Linked DNA regions of Homo sapiens: region 2 is linked to region 1. A link means that fine-mapping ties the variant in region 1 to the expression of a gene that starts in the linked region. Tissue or cell type: whole blood. Region 1 holds a variant in brackets; the other region holds the start of a gene. All regions are shown on one strand. Distances are from middle to middle.

Region 1 (2,756 bases):
CCACATCCAAACCATAGCAGTAGCCCAGCTTCTCTTTTCACTCATTGTGTTTGTTGCCAATAAACTCTGTAGCCTCAAAAGATGGGAACTTTTCCTTTTGGGTGTTGTGGATCCCATCCATGAAACCGAAAGTAAGTGTTGAGCAGAGCAAGCTGTATGTAAAGGCCAAGGAATGAAGAAGCAGGAGTGTGGCTCACAAATCAACTTCTCTACTCCTGAGGGGTGAGGGGATTGAAATAGAGGGTTTCTTGAATGAAGGGGTTGGACATTGAAAGCAAGGGGAAGAATATTCATGGCTTTTCTGGAAATGGACGGTGAACTTCTGGGAGCTGAAGCACTGCCATCTTTTTGTCCTTTTACGGCGTCTTCCCGTCATTGTCATGGTGATTGTCAGCCGCTGTGGCACTGGTGGGAGTGTCACGGAGCATGCAAATGAGGTTGTAATGAAGTTGGAGGCCCTGCAAAGGCCAGGTGGACTTCCACTTAGCATCCTGCTGGTCTTAGCTGGTTTAACCAAGAGGGGAGCCTCTGACCTCAGGCATCCTATTGCTGAAGATAGGCAGAGTTTGAGTTGTGCAACTGTTCAGCCAAGCCTACAAGATGTATAGTGCTGTGGGGGTAACATGGCCTCCCTACCCAGCCTCGCTTCAGAACTTTCGTACCAAGGCTGGACTGTAGAAAAGTCCTTCCTATGCCATGGCACTTTCCCACTGAGGCCTCCCATGGGTGCCGTTTCCTTTGCTGGAAGGTTCTCCTCGACTCCTGGCAGTCTATACTCATTTAAAGGTTTCCGCCTTCTCTAAAGCCTCTCACTGCTGGACTTCACGGTGGATCAGATTTCCCTTTTATAAACATTCATAGCAGACTGTACATTTCTTTCACTGCGTTTACCAAACGATTTGATGGCGAAGTGCGTCAGGGCGTGGGCCTTCTCCATCACTAGCGTTCCTTGCACCCCAGGAGCTCAATCCGTGTTTCCTAAATGAATACTTGACATTTCGCTTGATCGTATATTTTTGCACAGCAGTGATCTTCACGACCTTTGATTAGGCAGTGGCTTCTCAGATACGACAACAAAAGCATAAGCAACCAAAGGAAAAAATTAATTGGACTTCATCAAAATTAAAAACTTTAGACTTCAAAGGACATTCTCAAAAAAGTAAAAAACAACCATAACCTAGCAAATAATACATCTGATAAGGGCCTAATATCCAGAATATATAAAGAATTATTACAATTCAACAGTAAAAAGACAATCCAATTCAAATTCTTTAAAATGTTTAAAGAATTTGAAAAATCTTCCAAACAAAATACGCAAGTGACCAGTAAGTGCATGAAAAGATGCTCAAGGTCATTAATCACCAGTGACTTAGTCACCAATGACTAATGCATCAGTCACTTGAAATGCACATCAGAACCTCTGAGAGCTGCCAGGCCACACCCAGTGGGATGACTGTAATCAGAAAGACGGGCGGCGCCAGTGAGGATGCAGGGAGACTGGAGCCTCGTACACATC[G/C]CCAGGGGAACAAAAACAGTGCAGCTGCTGTGCGGAAATGGGAAGGCAGTTCCTGAAAGTGGGACGTAGAGCTACCATGTGACCCAGCATTTCCACCCTGAGGGGACACTCAGAAGACAGGGCAGATCCCCAGTGACATCTCTTTCCCGTTGGGGTTTGCTTTTGTCACAGTCTCCAATAGAGGTCATCATTCCTGGTGCCAGACCAGCTACGATATTACCATGCGTGTAGCGTTTTACGTGAGTTACGGAGTACTTGTGTGTTTTGTTTGGTTTTTCCATAGCTCTTTGAAGTCATAGAACAGTATTATTATTTGTCTCCGTTTTCAGATGAGGAAAACGAGACCTTGAGAGACTTTTGTTTGAGGTCATGCACGTAGGGAATGATAAAAGTCATAGACCTGCTTAGAGCAGCTCACAGGCAGTTATAAAACAGGGTTTGATATTTTAAAATTGTATTTTTACATTATTTTAAGTGTTTCTATATGGACACATTTTGGTCTTTAAGAGTAATTTTATGTTCTGTGGCTTGTAAACCACCTGCTTGTTTTCTGTACTGGGCACTTTTGTATTTTTGTGCCTTGACTTTGAGTGATTTTATCATTTTGTTAACACCACAGAGTGTACTTCGTAAACCGAGATGGCGTGGCCTGCTACACACCCCCGCTGTGTGGCGCAGCCTGTGGGTCCTAGGCTGCGAGGAGCAAGAGCTGCACTAAATGCTGTAGGCAGCTGGAACACAGTGGGAATTATTTGTGTGTCTAAACAGATCTAAACACAGAAAAGATGCAGTAAAAATACAGTGTGAGACTCCGTAGGGCCCCATCTCACATGTGGTCAAGTGTGAGACTCCGTAGGGCCCCATCTCACATGTGGTCAAGTGTGAGACTCCGTAGGGCCCCATCTCACATGTGGTCAAGTGTGAGACTCCGTAGGGCCCCATCTCACATGTGGTCAAGTGTGAGACTCTGTAGGGCCCCATCTCACATGTGGTCATCTGTAGTTGACCGAAATGTTGTGTAACATGTGACTGTTTCCAGGTTAATTGCAGACAGTGGCACACCCTCCCCTAGGTTCTTCAGTTTCTGTTTTTTCAGTCTTTTGAGGTAAAATTTGCATGCAGTGAACTACCTACAGTATTATCTGTCTGCTTGCTGCTGAGGTATAGGACATGATTGCCACCCCAGAAACTTCCCTCATCCCTCATGTGGGGCAGGCCCTTTCAGCTGTCTGGATTTGTT
Region 2 (2,627 bases), 82 kb after region 1:
GAAGGTGGCCGGGGTCATAAGGCCATGCTGTGAGCTAGGGCTGCAGCCCCACATCCCAGGCACTGTCCCTCACAGCCCACCCCCCACTCGCCATCCCCACACGCCATCCCCACGCCCCACTAGCCATCCTCACGCCACACCCCCTACTCGCCATCCCCATGCCCCACTCACCATTCCCAGGCCCCAGCCCCACTCGCCATCCCCACCCCCCCATGCCCCATCCTCTGCACCCCACACGCCCTTTCCATGCCCCATCCCCCACACCCCACATGCCCCATCCCCGACACCCCACACACCCCATCCCCCACACCTCCATGCCCCATCCCCTGCACCCCACACGCCCTTTCCATGCCCCATCCCCCACACCCCACACACTTTCCCACACCTCACCCCCACACCCCATGCCCCACATGCTGTTTCCCAGGCCCCACCCCCCCACGGCCCATCCCCCACACCCCACACGCCATCCCCACCCCCGATCCTCCACACCCCATCCCCTACGCCCCACATGCCGTTTCCCACACCCCATCCCCCATGCCCCAGGCGCCATCCCCCACGCACCGTCCCCTACCTGTGCTCCCCAGCCTGGGAGCACCCTGTGCGCACTTCCTGCACTCTGAGAGGCCCCAGACTCCCTGCGCTTGTCCGACCTCACAGGCAGGGGCCCATGGGGGCCAGGAAAGCACCACCCACTCCTAAAGTTCTTTGAAAAATAATCCCGCCAAAGCCTGGGCCACCAAGAAGGGCCTCCCCTCCTGTGCCTGGATGCTGGTTTCTAGAAGGAAAGAAATTGAACAGGAGCCGCCAGAAAACCCTCCTGGTGGATGGGGGTGTCCGGAGCAAGGGCGGGGTTTGGGAAGCCCGGGCTGGCTCCTGGATTTGCCCACTGCCCTTCCACCAAGTTTATGGAGAAAACCTCCCCGGACGCACCTGCAGCCAGGCAGCCCTGAAGCCCAAGCAGAAGGCAGAGGAGCCTGAGGGCCTGGGAGACCATGATGAAATCTCTGCAGTGCTGCCCCTGCCTGTTGACATTCCCCATGGGACTGACGGGCAAAGTTCTCTGCCTCCAAGGGTGACAGAGGGATGGGGGAGGGGAGGACACAGGCGTCCTCTGAACACCCCAGCTGAGAGCTGCACCTGGCCGGCCAGTGGCCATGCATCCCCTGCTGCCCAGCCACTGAGCTCAAGTGGGGGGGACAGGAGAAAGGTCAGGTGACCCCAGCTGTGCTGCAGAGCGGACGGTTTTGTTGCCAGCGTGCAGGTGTTAAGGTGTGTGTGGCACCAACACTTCAAATACGATCTAGAATTCCAAACCCCTAATGTAAGTTGGGAAACAGATTTAAACTGCAGATGAAAACTTGTCCCATAGCAATCATGCGAGTCAAATCTCAAGACTGTATCTTGGGTGTGGATGTAAATATTTGAAGAGAGCCTCCAGACCAGGCCAGCTAGGCCGTTGCCTGCAAGGGAGGCTGGTTTCTTAGGTGAGCCACAGAGCCTCACTGAGAAGTGCCGGGAATAGGATCATTCTGGCCCTGAGCTGGGCACCCCCACTCCGTTTTGACTGCAGGCAGCACCCCCATTCTCCAGCGGTCCACATCTTACGTCTTTTTGTTTGTTTTGTTTTGTTTGTTTGAGACAGAGTCTTGCTCTGTTGCCAGGCTGGAGAGTGCACTGGTGCAATCTCACTGCAACCTCCACCTCCCGGGTTCAAGTGATTCTTGTGCCTCAGCCTCCTGAGTAGCTGGGACCACAGGTGCACGTCACCATGCCTGGCTAATTTATATATATATATTTTTTTTTTTTAGCAGAGATGGGGTTTCACCGTGTTGACCAGGCTGGTTTCGAACTCCTGACCTCAAGTGATCCACATGCCTCAGCCTCCCAAAGTGCTGGGATTACAGGCGTGAGCCACTGTGCCCGGCTGGCGGCAGTCCACGTCATTTCTACCTGCTGTCATGGGCCCAAGCCACAAGCTGTGGTGACTAACCACCCCAGGTTGCCCAGGGACTGAGGGTTCTCAGAATGTGGAACTTTCCATCCCAAAAACACTGGGGTAGACGGTCATCCAAGCCTCCTGGGTTGCCCAGCAGGCCTGTCTGACCCCTCAAGCAGGGAGTATCCTCCATGTGAACAGTTGCATTGCTGATGACTTCTTTGGAAGCTGATGTCCAGTTCTTTTTACGGCTGGAGGGAGGGAGGTGATTCCTTCCCAACAGCCAAGTCTTAGCTCAGGGGTGCCTTTCAAAGCAGCCCCCAGCACCCCCAAAGCCTCCCTGCTTGCTGCTGACCTGCATCTCAGTCCAGAGAGCAGAGCACTTGCTGAGGGGCCGACAGGGCATGTTTTCTCTTCCACCCAGCACAGCTGAAGCCCATCTGTGCCCCTCCATGATATCGATCCCAGGGAGATCGCTTACAAAGTAGCTGCTCCGTCTGGAATAAAGCTCACGTCCAGCTCAAATCTGGTCCCCGCGGCTCTCGGCCAGCACAGCCCAAGGTAATTTCAGGACGTGGAGGGGAGGGGGCCATATCTAAACCCTACCCCTTTCCCACCTGAGAGTAGATGGCTGGCTGGTCTTAGGGTACCCTTCCCCTTTGGGGCTCCAGGTCAGAGGTCCTCAACCCTC

The links. PIP is the estimated chance that this variant, and not a neighbour inherited with it, causes the effect.
Region 2: F7 starts here. The variant in region 1 is fine-mapped to the expression of F7 in whole blood (TOPMed, PIP 0.98).

The regions. Positions count from the first base shown.
Region 1 is chr13:113,186,199-113,188,954 of GRCh38, reverse strand. The region is part of intron 7 of PCID2 (PCI domain containing 2); the gene reads left to right. Among named protein-coding and RNA genes, the nearest start is that of PCID2, 21 kb to the left of the region's middle. RefSeq lists enhancers at 1,206-1,500, 675-1,874. The variant G/C (reference allele first, on the strand shown) is at 1,517.
Region 2 is chr13:113,104,209-113,106,835 of GRCh38, reverse strand. It overlaps F7 (coagulation factor VII), which reads right to left and starts at 1,045. Exons shown (of 8, transcript NM_019616.4): 1 at 931-1,045. The coding sequence starts at 994.